2 linked regions of the Homo sapiens genome follow. The protein of the gene in region 2 interacts with the protein of the main gene of each other region in a pairwise test. Each region holds a gene or a part of one and is shown on either strand. Other genes may lie near its edges. The genes, in order: ITGAM and DKK4.

Region 1 (11,400 bases), on a different chromosome or scaffold from region 2:
AGGAGGTGGAGGTTGCAGTGAGCCGAGATCAGGCCACTGCATTCCAGCCTGGGTGACAGAGTGAGACTCTGTCTCAAAAAAAAAAAAAAAAAAAAAAAAAAAAAAAAAAAAAATATATATATATATATATATATATATATATATATATATATAGTTAATTGGCCTTCAGGAAACCTCTCCCAGAGCACTGCACCAGCTCCCCAGCCCCTCTAGGACTCTCCAGTGCTTCTTGTACTTCTGTCCCAACCCCATCCTTGCCTCTACACCCACCTCAAAATCAGAGTGAACTTCCCAAAATGAGACATGGCGATATCTCACCACAGGCTGTAAAGCTGCCTTTGGCTCCCTGGCCTGAGCTGATCTTTGTAGCTTCCCTCCAGACACCTTTCCCTCACTTCCCCACTCCACTCCCACCTTTCACTCACAACTTGTCCTTTGATGAACACACCACGCACAGCCTCCCCACCTCTGCCGGTGGGGAAGCATCCTCTACCACCCCTGTCTGAACGGCTCCCTTCATCCATCAAAGCCCAGCTAAAAGTGTCTCCTCCTCCCTCCATCCTAAGGGAAAAGGGGAAGCTTACACCACTTTGCGGATGCCCGTGGCCGTGTGTGTCCGCCCAAGCAGCTGCGTTATTGGCTTCACCAGTGATCTTGGGTTAGGGTTGTTCTGGAACTCTTTGAAGGTAAAGTGAATCCGGAATTCTTCAGAGTACTGCATCAAAGAGAACTGCGGAGGGGGCGGCTGGTGTGATGCTGGAGAAGGTGCCCCCACCCCTCAGACATCTCCCAGCAAGCTCCACGAAGATCTTAAACACTCCACTCTCCAAATTCCTCCTCTGTGCTGCCCCTAATCCCCTGCCTCACCAGGACGGAGAGCTGCCAGCAGCTCCCATCTCTCCTCAATACTAGAACACGGCCAGCGGCCGGGAGCAGTGGCTCACACCTGTAATCCCAGCACTTTGGGAAGCCGAGGCGGGTGGATCACCTGAGGTCAGGAGTTTGAGACCAGCCTGGCCAAAATGGTGAAACCCCGTCTCTACTAAAAATACAAAAACTAGCCAGGCATGGTGGCATGCGCCTGTAATCCCCGCTACTCGGGAGGCTGAGGCAAGAGAATTGCTTGAACCCGGGAGGCGGAGGTTGCAGTGAGCCAAGATCACACCACTGCACTCCAGCCTGAGAGAAAGAGTGAGATTCTGTCTCAAAAAAATAAGAAATAAAAATGAAAATAGAACTCAGCCAGCAATGACACGTGGGCTTCATCTCCCATGCCAACCTTAACAATTAGAGCTGCCCGCTTTATAAAAGGCTGAAAGAATGCTGAGGCTGCATCCAACAGAGCAGAAAAGAGACTCAGGAAGGCAAACCATAATCGATCGTCAATTTGGCAATGTCTGCAGTTGAACTGGGAGGAGAACATGGTGGCCCGGTTGCCATGTATCTTCCAGCCCCGTGTGGGCTCTTCCCTAACCTACCCCTGGGCCCTCACCAAGGTTTTGGACTTTTTTAATTGCTCCATCACAGTTGAGACAAACTCCTTCATCCGCCGAAAGTCATGTGGGATGATGCTACCAGAGCCATCAATCAAGAAGGCAATGTCACTATCCTCTTGAGGACACCCTGGGGAAGGGGAAAAGAGTATGAATCAAGTAATTTGACACTTGGTGTTTTGGGTTTTTTTGCATGTCAGCCCTCTGCTGAACAATGAGAATATAGGACCCCGTCTCTATAAAAAATATAGATGTTAAATATATATATAAATTATGTATAATATATATATAATTTTTAACGTGTGTGTATATATATATATGTATACACACGTTAAAAACATATATATATATATATATATATATATATATATATATATATATATACACACACACACGTTAAAAATTAGTCAGGCATGTTGGCACATGCCTGTAGTCCCAGCTACTCAGGAGGCTGAGGGTGGGGGATCACTTCAGCCCAAAAGGTTGAGGCTTCAGTGAGCTATGATCACGCCATTGCACTCCAGCCTGGGCCACAGAGAAAGACCCTGTCTCTTAAAAATAAATAAATAAGTAAATAAACAAGGACAAAGTGGTATGGAAAATTTTCGTTAATTCTGCCCAAGGGAATCAGGGAATGTGGTGATGTTTGACTGAATCTTGAAGAACAGGAAATAATTTGCCCAGCTGGGCGAGGTGGCTCACACCTGTAATCCCAGCACTTTGGGAGGCTGAGGCAGGTGGATCACTTGAGATCAGGAGTTTGAGACCAGCCTGGCTGACATGGTGAAACCCTATCTCTATTAAAAATACAAAAAGTAGCTGAGATCGCACCACTGCACTCCAGCCTGGGTCACAGAGCAAGACTTCGAAGAAAAGGAAGAAAGGAAGAAAAAAAGGAAAGGAAAGGAAAGGAAAGGAAAGGAAAGGAAAGGAAAGGAAAGGAAAGCAAAGGAGGAAGGAAGGAAGGAAGGAAGGAAGGATTTGCCAGATATACAAAAGGAGTAGATTCTAGAAAAGGGAAGGGCACACACATATAAAGTGATGTGGAATGTGCTCCTCTGCCTTCTGCCCCATCCCCAAATCCACTTTCTACCCATTGCCGCTCAGCTCTGTGGCCTGGGAGGTCAACCTGCAGGGACCCCATCACCAGGACTCTGTTGCCCTCTGGATTCCCATTGGATTTGGCAGATGAGGGGGCTCAACAGAAGACTAGAGGGAGGAGGGCAGTGAGGTCCGGGTGTTCTCCCATTGAGGTTGTTTGGGGACAGCTATGTCCTTCACAAAAGACCAACTGTTCCTCAGAAGGAAGCCAGCTCCACATGACTCTCTCCAGACCCTGGTGAGCTCTCCCTCTCCTCAACCCATAAACCCAGGGGTGGCAACAGACCTGCTTGCCCAGGGCTTGGAAAGTCCCTGATGGCTCCCTTAGGCCTGTCACAGCTTTATAATTACTCCCTTTATAAATAAACCCCCCTCTTTGTAAATAAATCTTACTGAAACCGCCTTTGCAAAATTATGACTGAGACAGTGAAAGAGATCTAACTTAACTGATTCCATCTTGCTTCTAACCTCCAAGCTGTCCGTGTTCATTCCTGGGTGTAGGCTGAGCTAACTTTGGGAGACACTTAGTTTATAGTTTATAGTTTATAGTTTAAACAAAGATCGTAACAGCCCTTTCCCAAAGCAGACCTCCTTCTTACCTGGGGACTAGATTGCCTTTGTAGGACTAACGTTAGCCACAAGATGAGAAATTATGATTTAGGAGTCATGCAGCTGGAGGCTACAAGATTCTGACCCTCCCTAAACTGCTCCTAAAATCAGTGCTTGAGATATTTTGCAGACCTTGCACTTGATGGATCAGCTGGCACTGCCCAGATCAATAAACTGGTTCATCCGATCTTGCTGCCCCCACCCAGGAACCAACTGAACGCAAGAAGACAGCTCCGACTCCCGATGATTTCATCCCTGATCAATCAGCACTCCCAGCTCACTGGCTTCCCCCGCGACCTACCAAGTTATCCTCAAAAACTCTGCCCCCAAATGCTCGAGGAGACTGATTCGAGTGATAATAAAACTCTGGTCCCCTGCATAGCTGGCTCTGTGTGAATTATTCTTTCTCTATCGCAATTCTGCTGTCTTGATGAATCGGCTCTGTCTAGGCAGCAAGCAAGGTGAACCCCTTGGGCAGTTACATTACTGGAATGTGCTTTTGGTCCCAGTTGAGACTCCTACTGATATATGGGACAAGGGCCTCAAAAGGATTCTGGCAGAATCCAGGAATGCCGTTTGATGGAAACAGCACTACAGGGACAAACGTATGTGACGGCGATGGAGACACAGCGGTGGCATCAAGCAAAGAGCAGCGGGCAAGGGCCTTTCTACTCCAATAAGGAGCTCGACTTTATCTGTAGGCAATGGGGAGCCACAGAAGGTTCTTAGAAAAGGAAGTGAGATGATTTGTTTTGTATTTTAGAAAGACTGGCAGGGCACAGTGGCTCATGCCTGTAACCCCAGCACTTTGGGAGGCCTCCTGAATAGCTAAGACCACAGGCACACGCCACCATGCCTGGCTAATTGCATTTTTTGTAGAGATGGGGTCTCATTATGTTGTCTAGGCTGGTCCCAAACTCCTGGCCTCAAACAATCCTCCTGCCTTGACCTCCCAAAGTGCTGGAATTACAGGTGTGAGCTACCGCACCCTTTCGAATTTTGAACCAAGTGTATGTATTATATATTTTTTAATAAATGAAAACTTTTTTAAAGAAGTAGTCTTGAACCCTGAGAGTGAGGTCTAAAGAGGGAGAGGTAGAAGTGTTAGCTGAAGCCACAGAACTGGGTGATTTCAGGAAAGAAGAACACGTGGGTGAAAAGAGAACCCAGAACCCAGTGCCCCTAGGTGGAGAGGGAAGCTGGAGGCCAGCCGGGGGTGAAGAGAATGCACTCAGGAAGCTTGGGTGGTGAGGGTGAGGAGAGATGGCAGGAGATGAGGAGGAGACTGGAAGAGAGAAGATTGTTTTCATGGCTATCGATTGTGGTGGTTGATTGCTTTTCAGATACAGATAGAATGAAGAGTGTTTACAGCCAGAGGAAGGGGGAAGTTAATTGTCCTAGAGAGAAAACAAGTGATTCAAGAGATGCTGGGCCAGGCGCAGTGGCTCACACCTGTGATCCCAGCACTGTGGGAGGCTGAGGTGGGAAGATCTCTTGAGCCCAGGAATTCGAGACCAGCCTGGGCAACAAGGTGAAACCCCATCTCTACAAAAAATACAAAAATCAGTATATGCGCACCTGTGATCCCAGCTACTCTGGAGGCGGAGGCACAAGAATTTCTTGAGCACAGGAGGCAGAGGCTGCAGTGAGCCGAGATTGTGCCACTGCACTCCAGCTTAGGTGACAGAGCAAGACCCTGTCTCCAAAAAAAAAAGAAAAAAGAAAGATAGGTGATCACCTTAGTTGGTGCATGAGAGACTCTCAAAAGCCCATATGGAAGAATTTAGTCATGGGACAGAGGAGAGACAGGTCTTCCTCTAAAACGAGTGAGTCACTGCCAGGAGTGCTGTCATTATGGAAATTTGAGAAAAAGGAGAAAGTGCGGTGTTACAGCTCCTTTAGAATTTGTCAACAAATTCCAGTGAAGACTGGAAAACCGCTTATTAAGATAAAATAAGAGAAGGGGAAAGTGGAGGGAGTCCATGCCTGAAGCTTTTGTTTTCTCTGTGGAGGAAGGAGGATTAACTGTGGAGGGTGAAATATAGAGGAACAGGGCTTGAGAAAGAAAAAAAATGCAAGGGAGAAACATTCGCCTGTGGTCCCAGAATCAACATGAAGACAAGCAAAAAGATGGCATAGCCATCGAACAAAGCAGTGGGAAAAAGCAGCTTGAAAGATCCACGCACTCTGGCCAGGCATGGTGGCTCATGCCCCCCACTCATTCCCTGGCTCATTCCCAGCACTTTGGGAAGCCAAGGTGGGCAGATCACCAGAGCTCAGGAGTTCGAGACCAGCCTGGCCAACATGGTGAAACCCCGTCTCTGCTAAAAATACAAAAATTAGCCGGGTGTGGTGGCGGGCACCTGTAATCCCAGCTACTTGGGAAGATGGGGCAGGAGAATCGCTTGAACCTGGGAGGCAGAGGTTGCAGTAAGCCAAGATCGTGCCACTGCACTCCAGCCTGGGTGACAGAGCGAGACTCTGCCTCAAAAAAAAAAAAAAAAAAAAAAATCCATACAGTCACTCAGAATCTCAATCAACAGAGGTTTGGGGAACAGGGGTGTGGAAGGCCGCCCCCCAGGATGGTCCCCAAGATTCCCACCTCTTGCCAATGACACCTTGCACCATCCCCTCCTCTGCAGTGTGACCTGGACTTATTTTTTAAAGACAGGGTCTTGCTCTGTCACCCAGGTTGGAGTACAGTGGTGCAATCATAACTTGCTGCAGCTTCAACTTCCCAGGCTCAAGTGATCCTCCTGAGTAGCTGGGACTGCAGGTGTGTGCCACCACGCCTGGCTAATTTTTTTTTTTTTTTGTAGAGACGGGGATCTCCCTATGTTGCCCAGGCTTGCCTTGAACTTGTGGCCTCAAGCAATCTTCCCACCTTGGCCTCCAAATAGCTAAGACTACAGGTGCTCATCACCACACTCAGCTAATTTTTTTTTTTTTTTTTTTTAGAGACAGGATCTCACTACATTGCCCAGGCTGATCTCAAGCTCCTGGGCTCCCAAAGCTTTGGGATTGCAGGTATGAGCCACTGTGCCTAGCCAAGGCGTTTTCCTAAAGTACAAGACCCTAGCACCTCCCTAGCTTCTGACTCTAATGGGACCCAGTTCCCCCACTCTTCTGCACCCAGAGCCCAGACCTTGAGCAGACGTCACCTCAGTCCTGCCCCCTCCCCTGGTCTTTTGCTGCGCATCTGTTCCCTCTGCCAAAGGCAACCCACCTCGGAGGGCCTCTGGGAACTTCTGGGGCTGCTGCCGTAGGTTGGATCCAAACAGGAAGCAGAGCCCTTTCACATACGTGTTCTCACTGCAAGTCTGGTGCACGGTGGGACCACAGGCCTAGGGGACAGGAGCCAGTGGAAGGGGCTGCCCCTGCTTCCTGTCCTTGTACCCCAGCACCTCCACCCTCCACAAGACCCCCAGCCCCACCATGCGTGGGCCCCCAAACACCCCCATTAGGATGCTCCTCTGATCGAGCCCCACTCACCAGCAGCTGAGGGGGGCTGGTGGTGGCTGCCAGGGACAGGCCCAGGGACATGTTCACGGCCTCCACGGGGACTGCGGGGACAGATATGGGCATGGTCACCCTGGTGGGGGGACAGAGAAGGCTGTGGAAGAGCTGGGCAGGGGTCACCTCCATGCGGGAGACAAGGAGGTCTGACGGTGAAGGGGGATCCTAAATCTTGGGAAAGAAAGGAACACAGAGGGGTTGCCTGGGGATGTCTAGGGTAGAGACTGCAGGCAGAGGAGAGGGTACGGAGGCAGGCACCTGTGTCCCCACCACAGATCCCCAGGACACAGGAGTGCCTGGAAAGTCCCTATGTGTTCACAGGGGAATCCCAGTCCCAGCCCGGCGGGGCAGTGACTCACCCTGCAGGCGGATGGGCTCGCATGAGCCTGTGCTGTAGTCGCACTGGTAGAGGCTGCCCCTTTGGTTGGCAGCCACTATCTCCTGGGGGGCTCCAACCACCACCCTGTGGGGAGAAGTGGGAACAGAGAAAACTTCGACATGTGGGGAGAGAAGGAGACCACAGAGGAAGTTCTGCCACCCAGAGGACGGTGGGGGCCCATACCCGGATTCCTAAATTCCTATGACTAGGAGGAAGAATTAGCAAAGAAAAAAATGGGAAAATGTTAAGACTCAGAATGAGAAAAGGTCTTCCTAAGAATGACACAAAAACCAGAAGTCATTTAAAAATAGGACCAGGCGCGGTGGCTCATGCTTGTAATCCTAGCACTTTGGGAGGCCAAGGGGGTGGATTGCCTGAGCTCAGGAGTTCAAGATCAGCCTGGGCAACATGGTGAAACCCCGCCTCTACTAAAAATACAAAAAATTAGCCACACGTGGTGGTGCGTACCTGTAATCCCAGCTAAATGGGAGGCTGAGGCAAGAGAATTGCTTGAACCCAGGAGGCAGAGGTTGCAGTGAGCCGAGATAGCACCACTGCACTCCAGCCTGAGAGACAGGGCAAGACTCTGTCCCAAAAAATAAATGAATAAATTTTAAAAATAAAAATAGGTCAATTCAAGCTGGGCACCATGGCTCATGCCTTTAATCCCAGCACCTTGGGAGGTTGAGGCAGGAGCATCATTTGAGGCCAGGAGTTTGAAACTAGCCCGGGTAACATAGCCAGACCCCATCTCTACAAAAAATGTTTTTAAAAATTAGCCAGGTATGGTGGTACACACCTGTAGTCCCAGGCCAACCATTTTTTTTTTTTCTTTGAGACAGGGTCTCACCCTGTTGCCCAAGATGGAGTCCAGTGGCATAATCATAGCTCACTGCAACCTCTGCCTCCTGGGCTCAAACAATCCTTCCACCTCAGTCTCCCAAAGTGTTAGAATTACAGGCATGAGCCACTGGACCCGGCCCACACAGTCATTTTATTTATTTTTATTTTTATTTATTTTCTTTCTTTGAAACAGATTCTCACTCCATCACCCAGGCTGGAGTATAGTGGTGCAATCTCGGCTCACTGCTGCAACCTCTGCCTCCCAGGTTCAAGCATTCCTCCTGTCTCAACCTCCTGAGTAGCTGGGATTACAGGTGTGTGCCACCATGCTTGGCTAATTTGTGTATTTTTAGTAGAGATGAGGTTTCCTTATGTTGGCCAGGGTAGTCTCGAACTCCTGGCTTCCAGCGACCAGCCCAGCTCGGCCTCCCAAAATGCTGGGATTACAGGCGTGAGCCCCTGCACCCAGCCTCCACACAGTCATTTTCAATAAATTTCTGGGCCAGGCGCAGTGGCTCACACCTGTAATCCCTGCACTTTGGGAGGCCGAGGCAAGTGGATCACGAGGTCAGGAAATCGAGAACATCCTGGCTAACATGGTGAAACCCCATCTCTACTAAAAATACAAAAAAATTAGCCAGGCGTGGTGGCACGCACCTGTAGTCCCAGCTACTCGGGAGGCTGAGGCAGGAGAATCGCTTGAACCCAGGAGGCAGAGGTTGCAGTGAGCCGAGATCACTCCACTGCACTCCAGCCTGGACGACAAAGCGAGACTCCATCTCAATAAATAAATAAATAAATAAATAAATAAATAAATAAATAAATAAATAAATTTTTGTATGTGATAAACTACCATAAGCATACTCAAAAGAAAAATAATACACAAGGGAGAGAGCTTCACAACTCATACCCCAGACTACTTTCCTCAGTGTACTCAAAGCTTGTACAAACTAGTAAAAAAAAAAAAAAAGAAAGAAAAATGGCCAACAGATAAGAAAAACATGTTCACAGAAAATGCCTCTCTCATAAAAAAAAAAGAAGCAATTTAAAGCTAAATTAAGATACCACTTCTCACCTACTCGATCTGCAGAGATCAGTAAGTTTGATAGCACACTGAGTTGGCAAATGAGTGAGGGAGTATGAGGAAGTAGGTATTTTCATGAATTTCTGGTGTGAGTGTAAATTGCTGCCACCACTGTAGAGGGGGATCTGGAAAAATCTATTAAAATTGCACGTGCTCATGCACCCGTGGATACCACAATCCCAGTCCTAGCCTTTACTTCCAAATAGGCTTGCACATGTGCAAAATGACAGCATTGTTCATAGAGCAAAAGTTTGGGAACAATCTAAATGTTCATTAACAAGAGATCTAATGTAATGTAAAAGGAGATTACAAGCCAGGCACGGTGGCTCAAGCCTGTAATCCCAGCACTTTGGGAGGCCGAGGCAGGTGGATCACCTGAGCTCAGGAGTTCAAGACCAACCTGGCCAACATGGTGAAACCCTGTCTCTACAAAAATACAAAAATTAGCCAGGCGTGGTGGCAGGCACCTGCAATCCAAGCTACTCAGGAGGCTGAGGCAGGAGAATCGATTGAACCCAGGAGGCAGAAGTCGCAGTGAGCCAAGATCATGCCACTGCACTCCAGCCTGGGCGACAGAGGGAGTCTCTAAAAAAATAAAATAAAATAAATTATAGCATCTCCCAATTATGGCATGCAATGCAAGCATAACATGGGATTAATGGACTCAAATCACTGGGCTGTATTATGGGAGATAAAGCAAAGAGCAGAGACCAGCCCCCTTCTTCTGGAAAGGTACTATCACCTCCACAATTACTGTTTCTGTAAAGGTAAATGTTTTAGGCTTCAGGGTCCATACAATCTCTATCACAGCTCCTGAATTCTGCCATTACAGCTCAAAAGTGGCCATAGCCAGGCACAGTGGTTTACACCTATCATCCCAGCAAGTTGGGAGGCCCAAGCAAGAGGATGACTTGAGGCCAGGAGTTTGAGACCAGATTGGGCAACAGAGTGAGACCTCGTCTATACAAAAAAAATCAAAAAATTAGCCAGGTGTGGTGGCACATGCCTGTAGTCCCAGCTACTCAGGAGGCTAAGGTGGGAGGATTGCTTGAGCCCAGGAGTTTGAGTCTACAGTGAGCTATGATTTCACCTGTGCACTCCAGGCTGAATGACAGAACAAGACCATGTCAGAAAGGAAAGAAAGAAATGAAGGAAGGAAGGAAGGAAGGAAGGAAGGAAGGAAGGAAGGAAGGAAGGAAGGAAGGAAGGAAGGATGGAAGGGAGGGAAGGGAGGGAAGGAGGGAAAGAGGGAAGCAGGGAATGAGAGAGGGAGGAAGGAAGGAAGGAAAGAAGGAAGGAAGGAAGGAAGGGAGGAAGGGAGGGAAGGGCAATAAACAGTAAGAGACAAGTGGACGGAGTTGTTTTCAATAAAATTCATTCACAAAAATAGGCGGCAGCCTGCAGGCAGGCCTTAATTTCAGTACAATGTATACTACACATGGTGTGTTGGCTGAGGGAGGGAACGTGTATGTGTTATGCACACACAGAGTCTCCCCGAAGGAACACCCAGGAAACCATTTGTGAGGTCCCTCCTGGGAAGGGAACTAGGGGAAGGGAGTAAGGAAGAGATTTTTACTCTTACACCCTTTTGCATCTTTTGAATTTAGAATACTGTAAATTCAAAAGATGAATTTGTTGTATATTTTGAATTGATTTATCTGTTGAAAAAGATCACTCAAATCGCTGATTTTTTTCAGGTATGTAAGTCTTGGAGAGAAAGCACTGAGAAAGGGGGCTCCATCTAAGGGTCTCACCTGGATCCCTGAAGCTGGACCACGCTCTGCCCGAAGCCCCTTGCGTTCTCTTGGAAGGTCATTGCGTTTTCAGTGTCCAAGTTGAACCCATGACATAAGGTCAAGGCTAAAGGGAGAATGGGGGAAGGATCAAGCAGAGGAAAGTAGCATGCCAGTTAGGGGCTGTAGTCCTAGCACTTTGGAGGGCTGAGGCAGGAGGATCACTTGAGCCCTGATTGTGCCACTGCACTCCAGCCTGAGCAACAGAGAGAGATCCTATCTCAAAATTAAATACAAAAAAAAAACAAAAACTAATAATAATTTAAAAGAAAGCAATGGCTGGGTGTGGTGGCTCAGGCCTGTTATCCCAATAATTTAAGAGGCTGACGTGGGAGGATCACCTGGGCTCAGGAGTTTAAGACCAGCCTAGGCAACACAGTGAGACCCCATCTCTACAAAAAATAAAAAATTAGCCGGGTGTAGTGGTACTCAGGAGGCTGAGGTGGGAGGATTGCTTGAACCCAGGAGGTCAAGGCTGCAGTGAACCATGATCATGCCACTGCACTACAGCCTGGGCAACAGAGAAAGACCCTGTATCAAAAAAAAAAAAAAAAAAAAAAGATAGCAGCATGTCTTCCTGCT
Region 2 (12,174 bases):
CCCAAGGACCGGAGCGAATGAGGCCTGTATCCTCCCTGGCAGACACAACCCAATAGGAGTCTTAATTTATTTCTTAACCTTTGCTATGTAAGGGTCTTTGGTGTTTTTAAATGATTGTTTCTTCTTCATGCTTTTGCTTGCAATGTAGTCAATAAAACCTCATGTACTATTATTGGATGATGATGATCTTATTTTCTTAGCAAGTATGTTTAGTTTAAATTTTCATATTGTGTTCATGATCATACTTTACTATGGGTTTTGTAGAGAGAAATATGAGATGATAGCAGATCTTTAATGGGAATTTTTATTTTCTCATATTCTGCTCTATGCTATAAACCACATTACCCCTACTTACTGATCAAAAATTGTTAATTAAGGTACACCCAGAGACTAGCCTCTGGAAGACTGTTCAATATTTTCTAGAAACTGGGGGGGGGCGGGGCACGGTGGTTCATGTCTGTAATCCCAGTACTTTGGGAGGCTGGGGCAGGTGGGTCGCCTGAGGTCAGCGGTTGGAGACCAGCCTGGCCAACATGGTGAAACCCTGTCTCTACCAAAAATACAAAAATTAGCTGAGGGTGGTGGCATATGCCTGTAATCCCAGCTACTTAGGAGGCTGAGGTGGGAAAATTGCTTGAACCCGGGAGGCGGAGGTTGCAGTGAGGCAAGATCACACCAGTGTACTCTAGTCTGGGCGACAGAGTGAGACTCCATCTCAAAAAAATAAACTAGGGACCTTCATAAATTTAGTTTTTTGTTGGGCCCATATTTGATTGTGTCAGTCCATTCTTGCATTGCTCTAAAAGAATACTGGAGACTGGGTAGTTTATGAAGGAAAAAGGTTTAATTGGCTCATGGTTCTGCTGACTGTATAGGAAGCATGGCACTGGCATCTGCTAAGCTTCTTGGGAGGCCTCAGGAAGGTTTTACTCATGCTGGGAGATGAAGTGGGAGCAGGCACTTCACATGGTGAAAGCAGGAGCGAGAGAGAGAGAGGAGGTGCCACACTTTTAAACAACCAGATCTTGTGTCAACTAACAGAACTCACTCATCACCAAGGGGATGGTGCTGAGCCATTCAGGAGGAATCCGCCCCCATGGTCCAGTCACCTCCCACCAGGCCCCACCTCCAATACTGGAGGTCACATTTCAAGCATGAGATACGGAGGGGATAAACGTCCAAACCATATCATTGAATCTTGTAATATAAACTTATAACCTGAATAGAAAAACAGGTGTATGATTTATCTCTTAAATCTGTAGCACTTGCTTGAAATCCACTAGAAAGAGCTCCCCTAAGCACAACCACTTCTATGCACAAAATACAGCCCTTTTAAACTTCAAACAAACAAAAATTTCACTTTTTTGCCCGAGTTCTCCTCTGGGCTTTTAAGCACAAGTGGTCAAAATGTGTAAGTAAAAACACTCCTTGAAAGCCCTGCCTTTCAAATATTAAAATTATATAAATATAAAATATACAAAGTTATCAAATGGTAAGTAAAGCTACTGAAAACGTGAAAATGCTTTATAACTTGCAAAGGACTATACAAACATAAGATATCTTGAAACTTCTTTATTAACCAAATTATTTTGTAGTGAAATGCCATTTCCCTTCTAAGAAATGAATGGAAATAAACAATAGAGTTATTAAGGAAAAATATAGTATTTGCTGTGATAATTTTCCTGGTAAGATGTAAGAATTAATTTACTTTTAACTTCAGATGCTATCATTTTTTACCCCCTAGGATACTGTCAGGCACCAACCCTTCACCAGAAATTGTTTAAAGATTTATTTGGAGAGAGAGATGTGGCTCGGTTATAGTATATGTATTTCAAAACTCACACAGTACACTTTAAATATATACAATTTCAATTCTTTGTTGTTGTTGTTGTTGTTGTTGTTGTTGTTGTTTTGAGACCGAGTCTCGTACTGTCACCCGGGCTGGAGTGCAATGGTGCGATCTTGGCTCATTGCAACCTCCGCCTCCCGGGTTCAAGCAATTCTTCTGCCTCAGCCTCCCGAGTAGCTGGGATTACAGACATCTGCCACCATGCCCAGCTAATTTTTTGTATTTTTTAGTAGAGACAGGGTTTTACAGTGTTGGCCAGTCTGGTCTCAAACTCTTGACCTCGTGATCCACCCACCTCTGCCTCCCAAAGTGCTGGGATTACAGGCGTGAGCCACCATGCCTGGCTTCAATTCTTAAAGATTTGAATTAATTGAGTCCCTAGATTAGAAATAATTTTTTTGGTTACAGAGTCCCATCAGTTTTCTGGAAAAACGGACAAAAGGCTAAAGCTAGTTTCATTCATCACAAGGTCGCCATCTCTTAGTTCTCTAGTTTCAGGCTATTTCACTTGCTACAAGATTTGATTTTAAGAGAGATCTGTATGGAAGCATTTTAAAGTTAATGTCCAAGATTGAGCTCAAATGCAATGTGGATTCTTCTTTATTTTGAAATATTTATAGCTTTTCTATTTTTTGGCATACTCTTAATCGAGCATGCTGCCGATTGCTGGTCAATTGGCTTCGACACAGTAGTCCAGGGCCACAGTCGCAACGCTGGAAGATTTCTGGAGCTTGAGCAGTGTCTTTATGCCCTCTTCTGGAGCAGACCTGTCCCTCCAAAAGGACTGGCTTACAAATTTTCGTCCAAAAATGACGAGCACAGCAAAGTCCAGGGCCACAGTCAAAAGTTCTCAGACAACTTTCTCCCTCTTGTCCTGTAACAAGGTTAATGTGGGCTTTAGTGATAAATAAGGAAAGTGGCCTGCTGGGGGTTTGCTACTGGGATAAGGGAATGGGACCTATGACTGACAGCCACAAAGTAAAAACAGACACAGCACGCAGGTCTCACAGAGCTAGGTGTTACGCTAAAAGCAGTAATGCCATGGCGACTCCACCCCTACCCATCAGAATTGATCGTTGTTACTGGCTGCAGACTACCTTAGGCTACTCTCTACGTGACCCCCACAGCTTCTTACAGAAAGAGATAACAAACAGCACATGCTTCCTAAGTGTTTCTGGGATGGAGAAGAATAAAATCAGTCTCACCCTATCCTTAAGAGGCTGGGAGGAGAAAATGCATTTCTGAAATAAAATATGCTGCGAATGCTGTTCTTACCCTTCCTGCCTTGTGATTTCTTAATACTTGGCTTCCTTTTGGGTTGGTTTTCCTGGACTGGGTGCCCAGTTGTTCCTTCTGCATGTGTGCCATCTTGCTCATCAAGCTGCCTTTCTAATATTGGGGTTGCATCTTCCATCGTAGTACAAACATCTGAGGGACAACCAGGTGTAACTAGAATTATTAACTTCAAGGGGGAGAACCACAGACACACTAATTATCCTACTGTTGCATAGTTTGGCAGCACCTCTGCCTTCAGTTTATATATAACTTTCTAGATTTCTGGAACATGTGCTAAATATTTACATGCTCGCATGTGGCAGAGAAAGTAGCTAAGTGGAAATTGCATTCCATTAAAGGTAGTTAATGGTATCCAAGTGGAAATGGAAGTATTTGAATGATTACAACTTGAGTCTTTCCTTTAAAATCATTATCTCCAAGTCATTGGCAAGAGCTGTTGCCAGGAAATAAATTATTTTGTTTCATTAAGAAAAGGCAAGCCGGGTCCGGTGGCTTACGCTTGTAATCCCAGCACTTTGGGAGGCCGAGGTAGGTGGATCACCTGAGGTCAGAAGTTCGAGACTAGCCTGACCAACATGGTGAAACCCTATCTCTACTAAAAATAACAAAAATTAGCCGGGCATGGTGGTACATGCCTGTAGTCCTAGTTACTCCAGAGGCTGAGGCAGGAGAACCACCTGAACCCGGAGGCCGAGGCTGCAGTGAGCTGTGGACAACAAGGGCGAAACTCCGCCTCAGAAAAAAAAAAAAAAGGAAAAGAAAAGGCAGCTGCATACATTTACTTCAAGCATGAATCTAGGAAGCACCATTAGAGAGTGCCTACCCTGGAATATTCTAGTCTATGGGGCTTAGACACTACCTTCGGTTTAAAAACCACTGTTGGCGTTATGTCGCTCACCGTTCACACAGAGTGTCCCAGGGCAGCACATGGCATCTCGCTGGCACCTCCTCCGCAACCCACGACATGTAGCACAGAACGGCTTCTCATCGCGGGGCTGGAGGCAGAACTTTCTGGTATTGCAGTCCGTGTCAGACAGGCACTGTGAGCCCTGTGGAGGGAATCTGTTATCACAAGGCTAGGAAACCCCCAACACGATGGAAGATGACTTATTATTGAAGGCAGGAGGCGGAGGGAGCCAAAGGACAGTGGCGCTGTGACAAACCCTGGGCAGCATCTTACTCTCCAGTGGAAATGGTTTTCTCCCACAAAGGGAAGCTCATGTCACCCGGGGAGACCTAGGCGCTGCAAAGGCTATTTGAGTTTGAAAAATTGACTTAACTCAGAATTTAGTTTTCCTGTGCTCTTTGTGAAAATGGGAAAAAATGTTTTCCTATGTGTGTCTTAACAGGTGAGTATGAGATTTTCAATATATCTTAACTCTAGAAGCTGGCTACAGTTTCATTAAACATACTATTGATGTTTGTGGCATTCCTATTTGATTTTTTACTCTAGTGAATCACATTTAGCTTAGAGACCCTTCCCTAAGTGAACTGTCCTTTGATTTTCAATGATGCCTCATTGACATAGAGAAAGAGATACCGAAGATCAATTGTTCTCATACACAGTTGATGCTTCTACATAGACATACAACGTAGGTGTAGCATATATGATATATGTAATAATCTATACGATATATAATAACATATACACATACATAAAGCGATTCCTAAAACAACTCTCTCTGTGAAGTTAGATGGTGACAAGGCAATGCATCATGGCCCTCTGTTTAAATTCTCATTCCCATGTTTGCTTGCTGGCTGTGTGAGCTTGGGTAAGCTCTTCAACATCTCTGAGTCTTATTTCCTCATCTGGAATTAGGGAATGTTTCACCTATCTCAAATTGTGAGGAAGAGTACATGACGTATTACATGTAAAAGAGCTGGCACATAGTAGAGCTTCCAAAGTGTTCGTTTATTTCGTGATTTATAGACAAACGTATGGCCGAATGATGTGAAAAGCCACTGTGTTTATTTCATACATTCACACTAAGGCCACTGATCCTACCAGGATGCCCTCCCAAATCCGAAACCAATTCAATTTACCTGCTAGGTAAGACATTTCATACATGAATCAGAATGACTTACTAAAGCCTAAACAAAACACCCCAGCTGTCAGCAGTCCCGTACCTCGCCCCCCTCCCTAGCAGCCTTACCTTCCGGGCCCCATGCAGGTCAGCAGAGCTCCTGATGTTGTTGAAGTCCAGGACCAGAGCTCCCAGGGGAGAGCAGAGCCAGCTCAGCCCCAGCAGGACGGCCGCCACCATCCTTCAATCCCGGGGCTCCTGGAGGGTCCCAGCACTGTGCGTCACCAAAGCGAGGCTGCTCTCCACCCAGAGCAGAGCTTCCACTAAGCTGGCAGCTCAGCACGTCGTCTGTTTGTCACTGCTTTTTCTGAAAGAAGTAAACCTTAGTCTGAGTAAGGTGCGTGAAATCGGCTGAGCAAAGTCTGACCAGCAGGTTCCTCCTGAAACTATTTATAACCAGATGTGCCTCCTCCCCGCTCCGTTCCTTCCTCCTGCCCCACACAGGCTTCAACAAATCCCTTCAAATCTGTTTGATCAATAGTTCAAAACAAGGACTCAATAGAAGGAGAGAAGAGGCAGGGCCATGCGGCTTCTCCTCCAGGGGTTCAATCCCTCTTAATTATTGCATATCAAAGTTAGTTCAAAGGGCCACGGCAGAGCAGGATGTCTGTATCAAAGGCAAACTCTGATAATCACCTGCATTTCCTACCTTCAGTAATCCTTTGGGGGTAGGGAGGGAGTCTGCCCTAAGATCTGTTTTCACAGCTAATTGTGCTCAAAGAAAGGATGAATCATACTGGCCAATATGCTATAGAGGATGCCAAAAACTAATGAGGTACAAAATACACTGAGAAGCTGTAAACTGGGCTTCAGATAGTGAGGACAGATAGAAAAAGAGAAAACGCCCCCTGATTAGCTCTGGCATCCAGATGTCAAAATCCCAACCGCTTAAAAGTTGTGAACGTAACAGCACCTGTTCTGACTAAATGCCATTTGGGAAATTACTTTCCTTTAAATGAAAATTGAACTGTTTGAAGTTAGGGTTATTAGGAAAATAATGTAATTTATGAAAATCCCATTTTTCAATGGTGGGAACAATGATAGCGCATTTTACACAATTCAGTACGAAGCTTTGGGTCCATTTTATCAGCAACATATTTAATTTGTGTTGCATTATGTAAAACTCACTTAAGCAGAACAAGGATCCAAGTCTCTGGCTGATTTCAGATGAAATTTCATGTATTTCCAATTTTCCTAATACGAATTTTTTAAAACTTCTGCTTCATCCCTTTCCTGTCTGATTTTTTTCCATTTGGACTATTAGTCAGGTAATTTAGACATGTGCTTATCACTGTCTTAAATACTTTAAGGGTAGAACAATCTAGATCTGGATCAAAAAATCATTTTTTCTCTTCATTGTTTCATTGCTCTTAGCATAGAGTCATCTAAAATGCATTTTTTCTATGCCATAAATGATAATCTTATTATTTACTACATTTTCCTGCAGAACAACCTAACATCAATTCATTGACATGAATCTCAGCATTCTGTGCATGGGAACATTCTCAATTTTGAGTAATGCAGTGCCATTCCGAGGGTGATGCAGGTGATTCGAGCCTTCCTACTACTTGGCCCTTGTCCTTGGGTTGGTATTGCTTGTCTACCTCTCGTATGGAAGTTACTTGTTTTAATCCCTTAAACTGACATCAAACAACACCCTTTGATAGCATGATAACCCTGGTGACTAGGGGTGTTACAGAATTTATTTTCAAGTTGTACAATTATGACCAAGGATAAAGGAAAGAGCCCCCAGGGTTCTGTCTCTGCCGGGTTTCTCTGCTTCCTGCTGCCTCACTGTAAGGGAATTTCAGGTTACCAAAGGCCCCTGGCAATATACACAGGCGAAAGAACTGACGGGAACTCCTGTAACACGGCACAAACAGCCACTGAGCACTTAGAGCACTTGGCATGGAACAGAGCCTCGGATTACATGTTAGGAATAAAATTTGAAACTCCAATGGCCGGGCACAGTGGCTCACACCTGTAATCCCAGCACTTTGGGAGGCCAAGGTGGGAAGATCTCCTGAGCTCAGGAGTTCAAGACGAGCCTGGGCAACATATTGAGATCCTGTCTCCACAAAAAAAAAAAAAAAAAAAAAAGTAGGCCGCGTGCGGTGGCTGACGCCTGTAATCTCACCACTTTGGGAGGCTGAGGTGGATGGATCACCTGAGGTCAGGAGTTCGAGACCAGCCTGGCCAATATGGTGAAACCCTGTCTCTACTAAAAATATAAAAACTAGTCGGGCGTGGTGGTGGTCACCTGTAATCCCAGCTACTCGGGAGGCTGAGGCAGGAGAATTGTTTGAACCTAGGAGACCGAGGTTGCAGTGAGCCAACACGGTGCCACTGCACTCCAGCCTCGGCAACAGAGTGAGACTCCATCTCAAAAAAAAAAAAAATTAGCCAGTCATAGTGGTGTTCACCTGTAGTTTCAGCAACTCAGGAAGCTGAGGTGGGAGAATCATTTAAGCCCAGGAGATTAAGCCTATATATATATATATATATATATATATAGAGAGAGAGAGAGAGAGAGAGAGAGAGAGAGAGAGAGAGAGAGAGAGAAAGATTCAGACAGAAAACTTGTATGTATGGATGACAGAGCCTGGGTGACACAGAGAGAGAGAGAGATCCAGATAGAAGACATGTACATATGGATGATTTCAATGTATTATGACAAGCACTAAAATAAAGGTATAAATATAAGGGTGGAGGACTTATGAAGATATAAATACAGACGAAGGCATGATTTAGACTTTCTAGAGAAATAAAGGAATGTGTTTACAGATGAGGTAATATTTGAGCTGAATTTTGTTGGTTGCATAGGGGCTTCCTAAGTTGGGAAGTCGGAGATATCCTCACCTGGGCTCAGAGGGTGAGGTGTGTGCAAGAGGGAGGAGGTGCACTCAGGTGCTAGTGAGAGATTGTGTGGCTGCGGCAGATGATGGAAGGATGAGATGAAGCAAGATGCAGACCCTGATATGCCATGCTAAGAAAATCAGATTCTATTCTCTGCACAATGTAAAGTCATTGGAGATATATCAGACTGAGAATGCCATGATCCGCTGGGTGCAGTGGCTCATGCTTGTACCCAGCACTTCGTGAGGAGGATAAAGCAAGAGGACCACTTGAGGCCAGGGAGCAGCCTGAACAACATAGCAAGACCCTGTCTCCACAAAAAATAAAAAACCTGGGCATGCCAGCACTTGCCTGTAGTCTCTGTTACTTGGGAAGGTGAGATGGGAGGATCACTTGAAGCCAGGAGTTCAAGAGCAGCCTGGGCAACATAACAAGAACCCATCTCTACGAAAAATACAAAAATTACCCTGGTGTGGTGGCACGTGTCTGCAGTCCTAGCTATTCAGGAGGCTGAGGCAAGAGGATTGCTTGAGCCTAGGAGGTCAAGGCTGCATGATCCTATCCCTGCACTCAAGCCTGGGTGACAGAGCGAGACCCTGTCCTCCCACCAACAAGAAGGAAGGGAGGGAGGGAGGGAAAGAGAGAAAGAGAGACAGAGAAAGAAAGAAAGGAAGGAAGGAAAAAAGAAAGAAAAGAAAGAAGGGAAAGAAGAAGAGAGAGAGGAAGGAAGGAAGGGAGGGAAGGAGAGAGGGAGGGAGGGGGAGAGAGAGAGAGAAAGGAAGGAAGAAAAGAAAAGAAAAAAGAGAGGAAGGAAGGGTGAAAGGAAGGAAGGAAGAAAAAATGAAAGGAAGACAAACGAAAGGAAGGAAGGAGAGAGAAGGGAAGGAGAAAGAAAAAGAGAAAGAAAGAAAGAGGAAAGAAAGTGAGAGAAAGGAAGGAAGAAAGGAAGAAAGAGAAAGAAAAGAAAAGAAAAGAAAAAAGGGAGGGAGGAAGGGAGGAAAAAAGGAAGGAAGGAGAGAGTGGAAAGAGAGAGAGAGAGAGAGAAAGAGGAAGAATGTGAGAGAAAGGAAGAAAGAAAAAGAAAAGGAAGGAAGGAAGGAAGGAAGGAAGGGAGGAAAAAATAAATGAAAAAAGGAAGGAGAGAGAAAGGAAGGAGAAAGAAAGAGAGAGAAAGAGAAAGAAAATGAGAGAAAGAAAGAAAAAGAAAGAAGGAAAGAACGAACAAACGAAAGAAAGAGAAAGAAAAAGAAAGACACTGGTGTGATCTAATTTGCTTTCAGGGCACAATGCTGGTGGCAGTATGGTGCTTAGGTTGCACTGGGAGAGAGGGGAGGTTGGGGGCCACTTAGGACTCAGTTGTCATTGCCCCGATGACAATGAAGAGGTCCAATTTGAGGCAGTGACACAGTGACAATGGGAACCAAGCAAAGGATGGGAGTCTGAAGTTCGAGCTGCATCACTGGATGTGGGAGTGGGGAGGGAGGGGAGGAGGAGCTGGGATGATCCTGCCTTCTCTGATTTGGTGCACTGGGTGGGTAGAGGTGGGCCTAGAGACAGAGAATTCAGGATGAAAATCAGGTTGGGGGAGCAGGATAAGAGGGTGCCTTGAGAAAAGCTGTCCGCACAATCAACTGTTTGCAGGATATCTACTGTGGAGATATAAGAGTAGCCATTGTGTCTTCCACGAACCAGGCTCTCCGTTTTGCCTCTGAGAGACAGAGAGGAGTGGGTGCAAGCACCAGATGCCAGAGGATCACCAACAGGGGGTGAACAACACTGAAGAGCGACCCTGTGCCTGTCTGTGTCTGTCCATCTCTGTCTCTGTCTCAGCACTGACAGAATGTGGGCTTTGGGGCCGGGCCTGACTCTATTACCAGCTGGGCCTCCTCTCCCCTGTCTGCCCTGATCTGTGCATACGCCAGCCTGTCACAGCGCTTCTAAAACCCCACTGCAATTGCCTACTTCTTTGTCTCTACAACTAGACCATGAGCTCGAGCCAGGCGCGGTGGCTCACGCCTGTAATCCAAGCACTTTGGGAGGCTGAGGAGGGTGGATCACTTGAGATCAGGAGTTCAAGACCAACCTGGCCAACATGGTGAAACTCCATCTCTACTAAAATACAAAAATTAGCTGGGCATGATGGCACACACCTGTAATCCCAGTTACTTGGGAGGCTGAGGCAGGAGAATTGCTTGAGCCCAGGAGGCAGAGGTTGCAGTGAGCCAAGACTACACTACTGCACTCCAGCCTGGGCGACAGAGCAAGACTCCATCTAAAAAACAAAAACAAAAACACGACAAAAAAACCTCTAAACAAATGCCTCTCATCCATTTTCCAGGCCAGAACTTTCCATCTTCCATAGACTTTAGTGCCTTAGCAGGCTGTCAATGGACATGTGTTCGATACAACTCATCAAAGAAAAACCTCCCTTAATCTGAGGCCTCATTTTGCAATAAGACTAGGGTTACGGTCTCTAAAAAGCCAGAGCAATTTTGGAGGAAAGTAGGTATGTGAAGTAGTTTTGGGAACATGACATTTGGTATATTTTCAGATTTCCCAAGGCTGCTTGCCTGCACAGTGTCCCTCAGCGAGAATGCCAACAACTGAAATGAGATGCCCCCCTGTGGCAGCGTCTACTGCCAGGAGCCCGCATCTCCATGATTTGGGGACTAGAGATGATGGGGCAGTGGGGAGAGGATGCACGGTGAAGCAGGTGTGGAGAGGAAAACTTAAAAAATGTTTCTGCTTAAAGGGCATCCTCTTTGCTCTTAGGTCAGACCACAAGTTTCACGACACAGGCCACAGCAGCAATGACCTCACAGAATTCACTCCACAAGGCCTCCTGAGCGGCACCTGGAGCCGTGGCTGTCTTTTGAAAAGTGGCACCACAAGACACTCCTTTAGCCACAGAACAAAGGAAGCCGTCGTGCGAAGTTCTGGCCAAGGTGCTGCCATACTGATGCCCCCTGGCAAGGATTATGGGTTAACTGGAAAATTTCAGGCTGATGCTTCAAGTTTTGCAGTGAGCGCCTAGCTCATGGGAACACTAAAATCGAGTAATACTGACTAAGCTTAGAGGAAATGAAATTTCTCAAAAAAAAATTTCCAGAGGTCCCAGTTTCTGCACTGATTCCACTCTTTGGGTAAAAATTGCAGACTCGTGTTTGAGACCTGCCACCTGTGTCCTCCCGCGTGACAGCTGCTGTGGTTCACGTCAAAGGCTGGGTGTCAGAACCGATTATTTATACTCACTCGGGAATGGAAATTTTTATTTGTTATGCCTCCTGTGTCAAAACCAGTTTGATTTCCATAAGTTTTGCTTTCCTTAAAACAAAATCAAAGTAACGGAAGCAAGCAGGTCTTTGGCAGAATCTCACAGGAAATATTCCATCAAATAAAAGATGAGAAGGGGCATGTTGATGGGGCGGGCAGACAAACCGCAGGATGTGATCACAGAGATGACAGAAATGTTGCCATTTGGTTCCCTGAGGTCAGAAGGTAAGGCCAGCCCTCCACAAGGCTGGGGAGTGAAGGGCAGCACCCAGGGACAGCACAGGGGGGATGCCAGGGTGGCTGGTGCCAGCCACTTTTGCAGACGGTATAGCCTCTGGCAGGTCATGTCACACTCAGCCTCAGTTCCTTCTGGTCTTGAGGGCCTTTTACACACCAGTGTTCTGGGAGATTGGGCTGGCATCTGCCATGGCCTCCAAGTTGCTCAGCTCCAGGAGGCACCTTTGGACCATGTTCCATGCACGTGGCCCACGCCTTTGGAGCTGTGCAATGTGCTGGTGCAGGGAACCTCCCTTTCCAGCAGCAACAGCCTTGGAGTTGTCCTGACTCCACAACAGGCATCTGGCTGGGAATAGCACCAGGGTCCCTGGACCCTCCTTCCTCAAAGATAGGCTCTGCCATTGTTTTGTTTTAAAATAAAATCAGGTTGGCCGGGCACGGTGGCTCACACCTGTAATCCCAGCACTTTGCAAGTCCGAGGCAGGCAGATCACTGGAGGTCAGGAGCTCGAGACCAGACTGGCCAACATGGCGAAACCCCGTCTCTACTAAAAATACAAAAATTTGCCAGGCATGGTGG

What was found.
Region 1: the proteins of DKK4 (region 2) and ITGAM interact in binary tests that used the Homo sapiens proteins (3 or more experiments, as listed by UniProt).

What each region holds. Positions count from the first base shown.
Region 1 is NC_000016.10:31,261,177-31,272,576, reverse strand, and holds part of ITGAM (integrin alpha-M isoform 2 precursor), read right to left. Parts: intron 10,886-11,400; coding exon 10,780-10,885; intron 7,183-10,779; coding exon 7,079-7,182; intron 6,796-7,078; coding exon of another isoform or gene 6,767-6,795; coding exon 6,696-6,766; intron 6,548-6,695; coding exon 6,430-6,547; intron 1,624-6,429; coding exon 1,493-1,623; intron 731-1,492; coding exon 585-730; intron 1-584.
Region 2 is NC_000008.11:42,371,637-42,383,810, forward strand, and holds DKK4 (dickkopf-related protein 4 precursor), read right to left. Parts: upstream 5,594-12,174; 5' UTR 5,410-5,593; coding exon 5,299-5,409; intron 4,195-5,298; coding exon 4,044-4,194; intron 3,278-4,043; coding exon 3,125-3,277; intron 2,724-3,124; coding exon 2,464-2,723; 3' UTR 2,427-2,463; downstream 1-2,426. Other genes in the region: POLB (DNA polymerase beta), read left to right, coding at 1-21. UniProt on the Homo sapiens protein: Antagonizes canonical Wnt signaling by inhibiting LRP5/6 interaction with Wnt and by forming a ternary complex with the transmembrane protein KREMEN that promotes internalization of LRP5/6.